Regions from separate parts of the Homo sapiens genome. Here region 2 is linked to region 1. The links come from fine-mapping of genetic effects on gene expression. Tissue or cell type: T cells. Region 1 holds a variant in brackets; the other region holds the start of a gene. All regions are shown on one strand. Distances are between the middles of the regions.

Evidence for each region. PIP is the estimated chance that this variant, and not a neighbour inherited with it, causes the effect.
Region 2: EHF starts here. The variant in region 1 is fine-mapped to the expression of EHF in T cells (TOPMed, PIP above 0.99).

The regions. Positions count from the first base shown.
Region 1 is chr11:34,647,069-34,655,252 of GRCh38, forward strand. It overlaps EHF (ETS homologous factor), which reads left to right. Exons shown (of 9, transcript NM_012153.6): 4 at 1,951-2,013; 5 at 4,474-4,542; 6 at 4,669-4,737. Among named protein-coding and RNA genes, the nearest start is that of EHF, 30 kb to the left of the region's middle. RefSeq lists an enhancer at 3,576-3,825. The variant G/A (reference allele first, on the strand shown) is at 3,546.
Region 2 is chr11:34,617,213-34,625,396 of GRCh38, forward strand. It overlaps EHF (ETS homologous factor), which reads left to right and starts at 3,881. Exons shown (of 9, transcript NM_012153.6): 1 at 3,881-4,016. RefSeq lists a cis regulatory region at 1,782-2,181.

The sequences.
Region 1 (8,184 bases):
ACAAAACAAAACAAAACCCCCCCCACACACACACACAAAGAACCTTCTAGACCTAGGTTCTTAAGATAGGGTCCTAAGGGTGGTAAGAAGATATATGAAATTAGAACTATGTTTGTGTTTTGGGAGGGGAAAAAACTCACAATACTTCAGCAGATTCTTAAAAGGTCTGTAACTTAAAAAAAGGGTTAGAACATATGGTCTAGACACGTGTATGGGGAATGTTTCTGTGGTGGTTTCTGGAATTTCTGTTGCCCTAATGCCCCAGATGTCTCTCTGAGGCTTCCCCTAGCACAGGGATGGGCCACCATTCCAGATGTTGTCTTTGAGTGGTAGATTATTCATACACGAACATATCCTATACTGACATGTAAGACCTAGTAGGGTGGACAACTGACCTTGCAGAATGGTTTTGACACTGGCATAAGGTTCCCCTGATAGTGGCTGTAAAAATCTAGCTCTTCTGAGAACTATGGGCATCCTGAAAAGTAGCAATATTTAAGAACAGGGAGTTGGCCTGTCTGCACTGGAAAAGGCATTTATGTCTTGGTAGAACCCATGTTTGGGCAAGTAACCGGGACTTGGGCGGCATGAGCTCCAGGGCTGTGAACCAGAGTCATACCCTGGCAACAGCCATCAACACTGAAGAGGACCTGGGGCCTTGCAGCAGAGCTTGTGGCTGCGGTGGCCATTTTAGATGATGTCATTCAGCTCCCTGGCCATGCCCTGCTTCCCACCCACCTCACATTGGTGGCTGCTCTTTTTTCTTTGACTAGAATCAAACCAAACAAGGCTCTATAAATAACCCTCAGGGATCTTCAAAAAGATCAGACTTACACTTGAAGAATTAAAAATATTTACCTCCACCCCCCAATTAAATCCACTCCTTTAAAGCTTTGCCCTGATTGAGGTCTGAGGCAGGGAGGCCTGGGAGGTGCTGTGGCCATCTTAGACCTTCTGTCTCTGACTTCCCATGACTTGTTTGGTCTCATCGCATGCTGCTGTAGCCTCTGAGTTCCTAATGTCCAGGCAGATTGCTCACTCTTTTGTTGTTTGCCTTTGTGTAGACCTTCTATCAACTAACATTTATTGAGTATTTACTTATACTAGGCACTGTAAGTGAATTAATTCATTTAATAACTTTATGACAAAGTAAATATTGTGCCCATTTTACAGGTGGGAAGACTGAATGTCAGAGAGGTTAAAGGCATGGCTTCTGTTCTTGAGATGTTTAGAATCTGTCTGGGGAAGAAAACAGACTAGATTCATATGCATTTACAAATATATATATATATATATAAGCATACATATATATGCTTTTATATATGATAATGGGAGAGGAGTTGCAAGCAAACAAGGTCATGTGATGTGTACTGCTTGTACATGTGCTGAGGCATAAATAAGGAAAGAGTCACCACATTTTATCCAGACATATCTCACAGATTGGATGTAATCATGATGGCATTGATTAGATTTTAAATCAAAGAAGAATCAAGCTAGTTAAAAAGGTTTTTCCCTACATTTTCATTTTCATATCATATCTTAGTATGGGAAAGCACCTTAGAAGTCATCTAGTGACCTTATCTAGTTTAATCTTGTTACAGATGGGGAAACTGAGACCCAGAAAGGTAAAGTGCACACACCTTCCTCATAGCTAGTAGTTGAAAAACTGGGCTTCTGAAGTTCTATTTCCACCATACTGAATGCCTTTACTATACCACATCAAATAATTGCTTCTAAGGTAGTGCCTTAGATTCCCAATTTTCTGGGGTCAGAGACTGCAGGCTTGAGTTTGTAGAGGCTGACAGAGAAACCACCTCCCATAAACAAACATAGGTGACCAGGCAGTAGGATGGCAGAAGCTCTGCAAAGATGCCAGTTCTGTCCTTATTTAAGCATCCAGTTCTGGCTCCATCTGGGCCCTCTCTGACTATCCCAATCTGTCCTTCACAGGCCAGTGCAGTAGTGACCTGTTCCAGTCCACACACAATGTCATTGTCAAGACTGAACAAACTGGTGAGTAGTAGTGGACAAAGGGAGCCAACCTAGCCTGGCAAAGCTCCGGGGAGGACAGTTGGGAGAGGGCAAGAGAGAATGTGGGGGCAAGTTTTTGCAGGAAACACAGGGAGGCCTTTTCCCTGGCTGTCTCTGATGGGCCACCCCCACCATGAATCTCATTCTTGCCCTTGCGACCAGTGACTGCCACCTATTTCCAATTTATAGACTTATGGGGAGCCACACTTCTCTGCCTCCTACTCCTGGTTGTGGCATCATCCAGACCTCAGGCCAGCAGCCAAGGAAAAGCAGAATATATGGTGGGCCTCCCCACCTTAAAAAGTGTCAGGGGAGTGGCCAAGTTTGGAAAGAGAAGAGGAAGGGGCAATGTCTCCTCTTCTCTCCCTCCTCCCTTGATGGGTGTGTGTTTCACAAAAAGGGTGAATATACTAACTTGGTATTGTAGTTAACAAATTTTTAGGGGCCCTGGGGAGCTTCTGCAGAGATGTACAAAGGTACCTGCAACCCAGCTCCTGCCTTAGGTGTGTTTTTATATGAAGGACAAAATGCTGGGCTCTGAGCAGAGTCTACAGTCCCATAGCATCTACATTCATTTTCGTTTCCTTTCCCCTGTCCTAAATCTCTCTCCTGGAGACTGTCCTCCAAAGTCCATGAGCCATCATAAAACTGTGCAGCAACTATTGCTCCTAAGTCACTCCCCATGTTCATGCCTGGGAGCCTGGGAGCCACGTGGGCCAACCAAGCTTTCCATAGACCTCCCTGAGGATGTGTCCCAGTCACCAAGGACAGAATTTGACCTGCAGGTGATTTGTGAGTCACTTGGGGCCAAAATTGGCCCATGCAGTTATTTACCCTTTCATAAGTGGGCTGGCCTACCATTATTAAAGAAAAAAGCAATAGCTGCTAAGCATGCAAATTAGGCTTTGCTAGCCCTGCCTTTCTCTTCAGAGGCCAGGGGATGGGCCATCTGGATGTTCTGTGCTTTACAGGCCTGGCCTTGCCCTAGAGATGGATGCAGGACTTGGTCAGGAGGATGGCACCCCCTCCCCTGCTTGACCTGTCAGATAGCCCCACCGAAGGAGCCAGGGTAATACTGGAGAGGTCCCAAATAACTTGATAATTCCTTCTTGACCATCCAGACATTCTTGTGTTGCCAGTTCAGAAAAGCTGAGTGGAAGGGTGGAGAAGAAGGTCCACCCTAGGAGGAGGGGAGAAGAAGCTCATAGAGGGGCCAACACCCCCATACCTCTTTGGTTCAGTTTGTTTTCAGAGACAACAACAGGTGTACAAGGTGACCCAACAAGGAGAGAGGGTGTAACCCCAAGAGATTGGGCTTGGGGTGTCCAAACATGTAGCTATTAGCTAAAATACCGGCTAAATCCCTATGTCGTAAACACGAGGACTTAGCCAGTAAGTCAGGTTTTGTATCATTTGTGCTATAAAAACAAAATGAAACTCAGTCAGTGGCTTACACCCCGGCCCTAAAACTCAGAACCCAGCAAGGAGGGGAGCTGAGGGTAACCTAGGTCTGC[G/A]GTGAGGAGAAAGCAGGAAGTTTCTGGTGAGGACGAGGTGAGAGATCTTACAGCTTTTGGCTAGCCAAGAAACAAAATGCTTCTGTTGGAGACCAGCCCAGATCTGGGGGTTGCGTAGGAGTTGAGCTCCATTTGGGGTAGGTGGAGGGGAGTTCCCTTTGAATCTGAAATCTGAAGAGTCAGTCAAAGTGAGAGGTGTTTACCGCAGCACACAGAAGAAAGAGAAAGAGAGACAGAGTACAAGAGCACTTCTTTTCTGCGATGGGGCAGTGGGGCTTCACTCTTAAAAGGTGTTTGTTTGATTTAGTAACACAGTCCACCCCTTCTCCTTGGTTTTGTTTTGAGAATTTTATGTCATCCTTTAAGCTAATTGGAAAAATCCTAGAGGGAGGGGGCTGTCACCCAACTTGGATGACAAATCTCTGGATTTCAGCAAGGAAGAAACTGTGATAAGATTGACAAGACTCTTCCTGAAAGAAATATCATTAACCCCCCAAGGCCTCATTAATTATTTATTATACATTTAAATAAATTAATCCCTAACAAGGCCTTCCCCCCCACCACACTCTAGGGTAAAAATATTCTGGTGATTATGCAGTAGAATGCAGAACAAAGCCAAGCCAGGTTAGGAAAATTCCCAGGAACCACTTGGTCTAGGACAGGTTCCCATTCTTGCAACTTCTCTCACTTCCCTAAAAATGCAATAGGTACAGAACACATGGATGAGGCCATTTCCCCGAGGATGCTGAAAGGAAAATTAGACAACATTATTATAAAGTAACGCAGCTGAAGCAGAATCATATCCCTTGTCTCTGAGGACCACTCCTCACCCCCCATACTTTGTTGATGAACAATGAATTAGAAAACGCAGCCTCTTCTCCCTGGGGAAAAGAGATCGCTGACTATTCTCCTTCTCTATTTTTTGTAGAGCCTTCCATCATGAACACCTGGAAAGACGAGAACTATTTATATGACACCAACTATGGTAGCACAGTAGGTAACTAACTCCCTGACACTTAAGGCCCTTTACATTCTTATTCAGTTTGTCTAAGAGCCACAGTGTTCTATTGTGAGGTGGGGGGAGGGGGTGCTCTAAATGTCCTTTATCTTTTCATGGCCACAGATTTGTTGGACAGCAAAACTTTCTGCCGGGCTCAGATCTCCATGACAACCACCAGTCACCTTCCTGTTGGTAAGCTGTCATCACATCTGAGGCTGGGTATGCCTAATGCTTAGGGAGAATCAGTGGGAATTACCAACACTCTACATTTCTGCCTTTCTGGAGTCTTTCTAATTAAAGGGCTAGGAAAGGGATGGGGTTACCATTAGACGAGGTTTGCTTTTGAGGCAATATTTGTACATCGAAGATGACCCGTAGGGATCCTCTAGGCAAAATGTTGGTCTCCTACGAAACTAGTCACTCTGTTGTGACAATAAAAGTTGTTTAGGCTTTTCTTTATTTTCAATGAAAACTTACTCTTGCAATATAGCTGCTAAAATTATTCATATTTGGGTATACTTATGGGAAATAAGGCTATATTTAATTTTCAACAAACTACATTTGGCTTTAGAGAAAGAATACCTCATAGTAAAATTCAAAGGTCCGTGAACCTGTAGTGATAGTTTCTGGGTGAAGGGGTAGCCATTGGAAACTTCCAGAATCCCCACAGTTACACTATTTTGTCAGTTTTTAAGTCTAATTCCGATGACTCATCAGTGCTCTCTAATCAGTCAGAGCACCTGCATTTTATGAGTTACGTTCACTTTAGCTGCATTTGGTTAAGCTTGGATGCAACTGGGGCTATCCATGCTCCTTAACCAAGGTTACACTGGGTGAGAAGTTTGGGATGTTGGGAGTCTGGGAGAGGGGATTTCAGATTACCACCCCCACCTACAAATAGGTGCATTGGCGTGTACAGTGTGGGAAATGGTTGAAAGAGGATCTTATGGTTTCCCGTGATCTGAGTATGAACTTGTGGATCTCTTTGGGTCTATGAAATGGCACTTAGACATCAGTCACAAGTGATAGTGCCTCTCTCCTGGAATTAAATTTGGAGCAACTTCAGAAATGGGATTTAATTGGGTCTTTGTGAAAGAAATTAGTCTGCAACCCTTCCTTCCTCTTTTTTTCTGTTTTTGTTTTTGCTTTTGAGAACTGAAATAATGAAAGGTTTTGGTTTGAGGTTTTGTTTGGGTCAAGCCCCTTAAATGAGATGGGGCTGGGAGCCAATGTAAATGCTTCTGGAATTGAGATTAAGAGCTGAGGCCAGCATAGCTCTCGACTTCTCCTTCCCCCAGTGGTCCTTAGCATTATGTGTCACTTGAGGTATTTGTTAAAATTAGGGAATAGATCAAACACTGGCAAGGCTTGGCTGTGTATTTGCTATTCTGGGGGAACTGAGCCAACCGGGGTAAAATTTCTGTGGCAATCATTGCCACTCAGTCAAGACCATGGGGTTCAGGGCTGAGGAAACCTCCCAAGTCACACTCTGAGTTCCTCTGCGACTTCCTACAGTGTCATCTCCCACATCCTTCCATCCTTCCATCCTTCCATCCTTCCATCCTTCCATCCTTCCATCCTTCCACTTGGGTCTTTGACTTACGGCAAAAAATTCCAACTAAGAATAAAGCTGAACCAACCACTTCCTGAGCCTCAGGGGCTAGTAGGTCTTGAGGCACCCGGGAAACAAAAACATCATAGTTACAGCTCTGCTGCCCTGACAGCTGGGCCATCCTCTTTTCTACATCTTGACTTACACCTTCTAGAATCTCAAAATCAATAGGGGCCTTAGAGGCCAGTTTCTGCTTTTGCATTTGCAGTAGCAAGGAACTCGCTCTCTCCTGAGTCCACCGATTGTATTTTTCAATAGTCCTTCTTAAGATGGGCTCAGGAATCTTCTCTCCTTACCCTTCTGATCCTTGTTTGCTGCAGCTCCCCATTTCTATCCTGTGATTGTAACCCAGGCTGGAAAATGAGATCAATCACCCAGGCCCTAAAGAATCAATGCAGTCTCTGGGGTTGGTGTATTCATTGGGGTAATAGCCCTTCAGTAGGATAGTTAATTACAGCCTTATATGGGTCAGTTTCTTTCAGAATAGTTTATAGTCTCTACTGCATGGAAGCAGAACCCCGGAAAAACCTTGGTCATTTGCCTGAGTCTTTATTTTTCGAGCTCCCATGTAATTGAATGCAGTGAAATATCTTTCTATGTTTTAATGCTAGTTACCAGCTGAGCTAAGGCGAGGCCCAGCGTAAACTGATGCCCTCTGTGATAAACGCAGGTGGGGAAATAGGCTTTGTTTTGATTTCTCTGTCATCTGCCCATTTCATAAAATGCCCGCTGCCGGTGTCCTGTTCTGCTCGACAGTCCTCCAGCCTGTCATGCCAGCTCGGGCTTGATGTGTTTATCCACTGACTTGTTGAGCCTAAAGCTAGGGTGGCACGGTCTATTAGAACACTGAAATTTGTATATCCCGTAAAGAAATGGCTCACAGCTGAATCATATGCAAATGCTTCTAATCTTTGCTTCTTGCGAAGCAGCTTAGCTGAAGTCACGCTCTCTCACTTGCATCACAAACCTGTGGCTTGTTGCTGCCCCTGCCTGGACTGGATAGGACCTTGGCCTGGAGTGCCTGGGAGCCAAGCAAGAGAAAGCCAGGCTGGACAACTTCTCCAGGGCAAGCCATTATTTTATAAGAATGAATCACTTAACCACATGGCTAACTTCAAAGGTCTTGACTTTTATCCTAGGGCAGAAGAAGGACACATATTAAAGAGAGGTTAAAGATCAAAAGATATCAGTGGTAAAGCAGGCCAGTGATTCCACGGCTTACCCCTGCACACTGCAACAGGCAGAGAGGTCTGGAAGAAATTAGGTTCTTCTTTTGCCTTTGACTGCTTATTCCCCTTTATGATGATGGAAAGATTTTTATTTGGGGATTAAAAAAAGAACGTTCCTAGCTGGGTGGAGCCTAGCTTGGGTAAACGGCTGACAACTCAAAGAATATTTCCTCATGGTTTATCTAGTGTAGAGGTTTTAGAGTCCATGGACTGCTGCATGGGCCACAGCCCCCTGAAATTGTTGACAAAATTTCATGTGTACATATATGTGCATTTTTTTCTGAGGAGAGGGTCCAAGGTTTTCGTCTTATTCACAAAGGCACCTGAACTCTGAAGTAACTGATTCTAGATCAACTAGGAACCCACAAACAATAATTGAGGCCAATATACTGAGAGACTCTTGTATTTTTCTGAATTCAACTCCTGGCTCTGAAATAATGGCCCTGCATCCCTCCTGGATGTCATTTGAAAATGAGCTTTGCTTGTGGCCTGCTGGGTAAATGCCACTCTTTGTCTGCAGTACAACGTGGCCCTGTCAGAGTGATGTATCACTTGGAAACCGGGGTGGATGCCAGACCTGTCGCAATATTGTCACATCCTGATGGGATGTTGCAACCTCACCCTGCAACCTACAGGGAGGGAGAGTGAAGTCTCCTTGCATTTCCTGTGAATTTGTCCTCTCGGATTTCAGAGAAACCCAAGTCAGGTGCAGGCCCTGCTAGTGACAATGCCAGGAGAGAAATTCTTAACCAGGATGAGAGGTTTCTTGTTTACTGAGGTCTTATTAAATCCCTCTCT
Region 2 (8,184 bases), 30 kb before region 1:
GTGTGTGTGTACACAGTGGGTCATTCTTCTCAGGAAGAGTGAGCCACTCTCCCCTCCTCCAGCACCAAAGTGGCCCCCACCTTGGCACGCCAGTGGCACATGCCATTGGGCCAGGATTTGCTCAGAATGCAGGCACACAGACATAATGTCAGGAGGCATTGCTGGTGTGTGTCACATCAACCTGTTAGAACAACTGTCAACGTGTGACCTCCCAAACAGAACTCAGGTGCCCCCTTCAGAGACCGTAAAGCTTGTCCTTAGAGGATAATGAAGATCCCCAGGAACCTCATCTAATCCAAAACCAAAAGATTTGGGAAATGTGACCTTTAGAGGGGAGTAGCATTAAGAAGCAAAATGATACTTATTAATTCTGTTGCTTATTTGACTGTAACCAGTATAATAAATGATCATATTCTGCTCGATTTAATTCCCCCTCCCCATAAGTTTCACAAGACCAGAAGGAGTTTCTTCTTCCCATTGGTCTTACATTAATATTCTTGTACGGCTTTCACTAAATAGATGCCGTGTTCTGCCCTGGAGGTAACACCACGTCATTAGGAGGAGATGATAGACAGAAATATATACAAACACACACTTGCTTTCAAAAATAAATATAGGCCCTCTAGTTAAAAGGTATTGTGTAAAGTGTGTGAGCATCCTCTTTCTTGCAAAGCAAGCACACAGCTTCCATTAATCTTGTAGCCACAGCCTGTGTTGGTGTTAAGACTCAGATTCCTTAATGCTTGATACTTGGCTTAAAGAGATTCTTTGTCCTGGCCTTGATTTGGGAATTAAGATCCCTAGGGTTTTTGGTTTTACAGTATGGATCTTCTAGGAGACAACCCGACTGACCTCCGGGTCTCCAGGCCACCACACACAACCTGGTTTGCTTTGCTCTGTTCCCCTTTTCCTCTGTGGGGACCAGCACAGGACTCAACTCAAGGGCTCTGTGTCTGTGCACAGGTTGGAGAGGGTGATAGGGCCTTGACCTGTAGGGACAACCAGGAAGATTTCTATGCAGAGTAATTGGGTTTCTAGAGTTTGTTTCAGTTGATTTGAGGGCAAGCTGCTTGGCCTCTCTCTCTTGATTCTTCCCATCCACAGAATAAAGACAATCAGCTTTGTTTATCACTCTGTTCATTTTGCTATGTCTTTATCAGCCCCCCAGAGAATTCAGGAGCACAGAACAAGTGCTGGAGGTCTCTCTTGCCAGAGTCCTCCTTGAGAACTTACAATGTGTCCATATTAAGGATCTGCTGTGTTTGATGATTTTGTGATTACACTTTAAACTTCTTATCCATAAAGGACATACTTGATATATCTGAGACTTGTAGTAGAAGGCCTTGAGACATCCATCTCATCCCATCATTATCTATCTATCATCTATCTATCTATCTATCTATCTATCTATCTATCTATCTATCTATCTATCATCTATCTATCTATCGCCAGTACTGTCTTGTTGAAGTTGGCAGTAGGGTGAAAGACCTCAAACTCCAAAGGACTTTCCGTATGGATGCAATATACCTGCAATTCTAGCTTTTTTGTGTTTTTTTTTTTAGGTTGGGGGTGAGGGGTATTGTTTTCATTTTTGTTTTTCTTCTGGAAGGTTCAACTAAGACCCAAGTAAAAAGAAGAATCAATACTTAATAAGTACCCAGCAAGTAGCAGGCACACTTTTAGGTACTTTATTTACAAAAAAACCTCCACAAATAAAGTGGCTTGTGAGTATGAGGTGACATCTTTCCCTCCCCTCCCACCATCACTACCCCAATATGACTCGTCTCAATAGCCCTCCAATCTAAAATGGACTAAATACAAGTGGATAAAGAAATGGAGATTTAACCAGAATTCTTCAGCTATAAATTACAGGGCCTATAATTAAAGGTGATTGGGACTGGGTCAGAGAGCCACATCACTTTTGTGGTTGCATTTGAAGTTCACTATCTCTTGACCACACAACCCTAGCCCTTCTACTCCCACCCTGCTGTCTCAGGTTAATCTCAGGCAATGGTGTAAAGAAGGCCAAGTTTGTTTCCCTGGAGTCCCACGGGCTCTAGCAATAATGCTTCCCTTTTCTCATGAGTGCCCCGCCACCCACCCCCCTTCACCATCACTACACACAAATGCCCTGCAGTGGGTGGAATGTAGTTACTTCAGGTTGTGCCTGATTTGTCTCTCAAGCAAAACTCCAGCAGGCCATTCCCTCAGGGCCCTGCTCTCAGATCTGGAACTGATAGACTAATTGGGGCTAATGTGATAATGGGAAATAATGAAATTTGTTGTTTTTATCAGTGTGTATATGGGGCGGGGTTTACATTTGCATTTTCACAGGGCCCTTGGCAAGTTCACAGGGTTGAACAGTTGGGAAGGGTGGGAATGTCTGGGGCAGGTTAGGGAGGCAGAGGGATTTATTAGAACTCCCCTAAACTGCACTGACCAAAGCCTCAAGCCCTTCTTCAAGACCTGCCCAGCTTCCAAGACCTTCCCAAGTCCACCCTTGTTTTCCCACTGAGTCTTTTACACTTTCAGAAACCTCTGAATTTGTGTAGAAACTAGAAAAAATAAGTAAGAAAAGACTAATACTACTGCACACTCACTGTTCCCCCTTAATATAATAACCAGTTTTTATTCTATTCAGTCAGCCTTTGACCATAAGCAGACCTTTTTTTTTCTTTTTAACACAAGTAACTTCTTGGTTTTGATCACAAAATCTTTATCTCTGCCAAATCTCAACTTCCCTTCCCTCTCCCACAAAAGGGAGGCCCGTTGAGTCAAAGAAATCTGCTTAGACACTTTGCTCATGCCAGGCCAGTGTCCTGGAAGGTTCAACAGAGAAAGTTAATGGTTGGGGGATGGTATTTTTCTTTGCTAGGAGCAGTCATTCACCCGTATGGGAGAAGGTACATTTGTGACCCAGTGAAGCAGGTACAGGTAACTCCCCATATGTCCCTTGGCCCAAGGGAATAGAGGTTGCCTGGGTATTTGAATCCGTAGATCCTCCCTAATATTCCACCTTCTTCTTGTCCAAACTGTGCTTTTTTATTTCCAGTTTCAGCATTTTGGTCTTCTCATCTCTAACTCTTATAGGGAGTGTCAATAAACCTTTTAAAAAAGATCATGTAAGTGTCAAGAGGAAGTGAAGAACCTAGATAATCCACCAACCGGATAATCAGCTCTTGCATATTTGAGAGTTGACTGCTTGACCTAAGCATCTCCTCATAAGGTACCCTCCCTCCCAGGACCTTCCCTTTCAAACCTCTCAAGGCTCTTACCTGGGGCCAGGGGAGATAGGCTTTTCAAAGTCCATTGAATTGCCAAGAGTCTCTGTCAAGAAGGCAGTCATGGTGCCTGGAGAGGGAACTTGCTGGGAGCCCCTTCAGAGCCTGGTACTTATAGAGCTAGGGAAAAGATCTTGATGCCAAAGCAGGGTGGACTAAATACAGACTAATAAATGAGACAGGTGCTCAAGAGGGCCCCTCCATACCATCATCTCCTCCAGATTTGGACTTCTACTCACTTTGCTTTTACATTCCCTCTTCCCGATGGTGTCTTTGGTGAGCAGGGTGCTTTTCACCTGAAACAGCCTCTGAGCTGAAAAGAACAGTCACCACCAAATCAATTCCTCATCCATTAACAGGTTGTCTCTCTGTTCTTGAGACACAGGCATTACCTGGTTAGACCTGTTTTGTTTGAACACTAACGTGTGAGTTGGCCAAATGCAAATGAGCCAGTGTTTGTAATCCTTTATTTTATTTTTTTAAAGGGCTGGGTAGCCAATCAGAAGAGGGGGAAGTGACTTAGGGAATTCCCGGTTGGTGGCTTATTGCTTAACATCCTACAAAATGATTTAAAATTATTGTTATATGCATTTATCTTCACTCTGATGAGGGCTCAGACTTGATAACACCCGTGGTGCCCCATCCCTATAGGAGCTGGTGAGATTGCAGCCTGCTGCCTCCCCTCCAACAGCCACAGCTATTGGATTTCCCACCCAGAATCTTTAGGTAAATGAGGTAAGTCCTGATTTTTAAAACTTCTTTTGAATCTGGAATCCAAACACTTGAGTGGAAAGAGAAGCCTGCTTTAAACTGGACAGATGAAACTAGAACAGACTCTTGGAGACGGCTGGCAGGAAGTGAAGCTCACCTTACCTGGGCTTACCTCACTGGGTCAAATCAGAATTTTATTTTGGAGGGCAGGTTGGCTACTTTGGATATTATCTGTGAATTTCCTGCATTGTCTGGACTTCTAATCTCTGTGAATTTAAAAGCCCCCTCGTTTCCCTATGCCTGGGTGGCAAAACCATTCCCCTGGGTTGAATTCTTCTGGAACAAATAGGCAGCTAGAGATAGGTGGCTCTGATATAGCTCAGAGAAGAAGTGGTTGGCTAAGTAGCTGTTAGGGCTCAGAGTACACGGTCTCGCTTTCTAGAGATGTCTTCTGCTGGTAATTTTTCTGACTTATGAGCTACATGGAAAGGCCAATTTGTTTTTAATATGTTCCAGGACTGGAAAATGGCTAGAAATAGGCAAGAACATACACAATCACACTGGAAAAAGTGGCCAGGCAGCCAAGGCAGGCAGAGGTATTGGGGAGAGCTGAATATCTACAAAAACAAAAATTCAGAAAAAACAAAAATCAATTTTGGCAAAGGGCTTCACTGTATAACAAGGGGACAAGCTAACCCTTTGTTTACAAACTAACCCTTTGTTTACTCCATTTTGTCCAGAAAATACAACAATCAGTTTTGGCAAAGGGCTTCACTGTGTAACAAGGGGACAAACTAACCCTTTGTTTACTCCATTTTGGGAGACTATGATCAGACAGGCAGTTGTGACTCAGCAGCAACAAATGCCTTCTGAGACAGGGATTCTTTTGATTTTGCTTGGACATTGTGGAGAAGTGTTAGCCCCAATGTGGACTGATCTGGGAACAGTGGGAAATTAACTTCTTGTTGGTAAATATCAGGCTGAGGTGAGAAAGCGACATTTTCACCGTCCATCTTTGCTGATTTACCATGCTCCCAGGATGGTGGGAGTGTGTGTTTTTAAGATGGAGAGTGTATGCTTCTGGGTTCAAGTTCACAGGTGTCTCTGCTGGTTATCTGCACTCACCTTGGTAACAGGGAGAAAGTGAGTGAATGGATTCCAAGAACTTACTGATGGAAGTCTAATTCAGGAGTTGGTTCTGCAGCCATGGAGGTAAAGATGTGTTGATAGTCTTTCAATGTGTAAAAGGGCAATTAGAGATTCTGTGTGACTGTGTGTTAATTCCACTGGGGTCAGGGGAAAAATTTATTTCTAACAGAAAAGAAGAAGATACGTTATTAGGAAGAATTTCATGGCTAGGAGATACTATCAGAAAAGGCTCTTAAGAGATTTTAAGGATGACTTTAATAGCTGCATTTGAAGTTTGCAGAGGATCCACTTTTCCTCTTTTTGTGACCTAAAATTCTGGGATGATGAAATAACTCACCAATTCCATCTTCTTATAATATGGAGTCATGTAGACAACACCATTTTCACACAAATGGCTAATGGTATTTAAAAACCATGATGGAATGTGAATTGGGAGTCATTTGGAGGTCTGTAGTTGAACTTGAAAAAATAATAAATGTAATGGAGACAATACTTCACCGTGTTTCCAAAATATTTTACAGAGGCATTTTAAATGAAAGTCACTTTGAGGGAACAGCTGTGCTGTAAGTTCTCTTACATGACCGCGCAAGATGGTAGCCTTCATCAAGACCTCTCAAGGTAGTGTGGGTAGGGTGACGTGTTTGATTCAGGCCTCGTTTGTTATGAAAAGGCTCAAATTCAATTGTATTTGTTATTTTTTTGGTTAAAAAGCACCTATTTGTTCAATTCAAACAATCCTTTTTGGTTTTTTTTTGAGATGAAGTCTCCGTCGCCCAGCCTGGAGTGCAGTGGCATGATCTTGGCTGACTGCAACCTCCGCCTCCCAGGTTCAAGTGATTCTCCCAACTCAGCCCCCCGAGTAGCTGGGATTACATGTGCTCGCCACTATGCCCAGTTAAGTTTTGTATTTTTAGTAGAGACGGGGTTTTACCATGTCAGCCAGGCTGGTTTTGAACTCCTGACCTCAGGTGATCCACCTGCCTCAGCCTCCCAAAGTGCTGGGATTATAGGCTTCAGCCACCGTGCCCAGCCATATTGTTTTCATTTTTAATCTATTAGTCTATCGTGATCTCCCAGTGGAAGTATCTTTGGCCTTTGTGGACGTCAGGAAAGCCCTACATTCCCACTCGCGATTCCATGTTTATGGGTACCCTAAATGCTCCCATTAATTGACCAACTTTACCCTGATCTTCTTTCAATATCTTTCTGACTCCTTGAAGGTATGAGACAAAATGGAAACTGAGAGGTTAAAAGGTTTACTAGGTTGCATTCAATTAGCGAATTGGAAACTGGAAGGAGCTCCTATCGGGTCTCAGGTCAGAACGTGAGTGCTTTTGGCCAAAGTTCACTTCTGAGGAAGTAGAATTTCGCTTTCTGGAATCTTGCGATATTTTATTTCCTCTATATCTTTCCCATGCCCCCGACCCACCCAATCTCCACAAATTTGGGGATTTGAGCACTGGGTTGTGATCGTTAGACCATCTTGCTTTTCTGAAAGCCCAGGGCAAGACCCCTGCTTCATGTCACAGTATCAAACACAGACATAGAAGCTTGTACAAATTATTGAGAAGTTATTGTCTTTTCTCCCTTCCTCCATATGGAGTCATCTCTATGCCCTTTCATACAGATGTGATTTACGAAGACCTCTGGGTTAGGGGTGGGGTGGTGAGCAAGAATCCCGTGGCAGAATCTGCTAACACACTTGAGAAGCAATGTTGTGGTTTTAAGGAACTCAATCTAAAGCTTGAACCTGATTTTCAGGGATACCATTTTGCTGCCGTTTCAGCCCATTTCTCTTGTTAAGATCGCTCTCTGGTAGAGTTGACGTGACACTCATTTCTGTTGTGGGTGGGGCCCTGGTTGGGAGGCATTGGCTCCACTGCAGCCTGGGTGTCTAGAGACCACATTCTCACCCTGCCTTTGTTACTGGGAAACCGAACGCGGCGCTGTGGCTTTCAGCTTGGGTAAGCCGGGTCTGCGGCGGGGATTGCCATCTGAAGACAGAGGCAGGAGGGCAGCCACACCTTGCCCAGGTTCTCTTAAATCTCTTGCTCTATAACTGAAAGGAGGGCATAGATAATTAACTTTATTTGACATTTTTCATATCTAATTTTTAAGAATATGATTTTAAAATAATAGATTTGTTCTAAAGAGCAAACAATCTTGCTGTTATTAAAAACGTGTTTACTTAAATTGAACGGGGTTTCAAAGGGCCAAGCTACTAAGCTGTGCAGGAAACAAACAGTGCAGTGAGGAGAATGGCTCCTCACCACAGCTATTCTTAGGGTGGGACATAGTTTCAAGCCAAATGACATTGATGTCCGGAAACCAGGATGTGCTGAAGTAGAAATTTCCAGGGATCCCTCAGAGTTATTTGCTAAAATGTTTATTATTCTTCAGAGGGGGGTGGAAATATTTCTTTAAGAGTCTTCCTTGAAGAATTTTGAACTCCAGCTTTGGAGTGATGGGAGCACAGTGCAGGGAAGGCGGGATGTGAGGTGGTGTGCTGGACGGCAGTCTAGGGACCTGGTCTAGCACTGGCAGAGCTGTGTGTCCCAGAGCACACATTCCCCTTTGCCAGGCTTTAGTTTCCTCCTCTAGGCAAAAGGGTTTGAACCTGACCATCTTTAAGATCCATTTTAACCCTCAGATTCTGTGGCTGTGGTGATTGGGGGTGGTGGGAGTACCTGGGGGTCAGCAGGATAAGCACGAATCTGTGAGAGCTGAGAACAGGTGGGAGAAGCCTTCTAAGGATGAGGCAGGAAAGATTAGCAAGAGCCCTTAAATGGATTCTTTAGGGCCTTCAGAATTTTGGCTAAAGGCTATACTAGTGGAGGTACTAAGACCTGACACCTGGAGCCTTTATTAAGGATGTTAGAATCCACTCCCATGACAACATCCCAGCTTTGCCAATTTGCCTCATGTGTCTCAAGCTGGTGGGAATGTAGAAGTGGATGAAACAGACTGTTTTGTGATGGCAGGGAACAGCCTATGCACAGGGGCAGGTGCTCTACTGGTGTCTTCTATAAAACGCCAAAGCAGC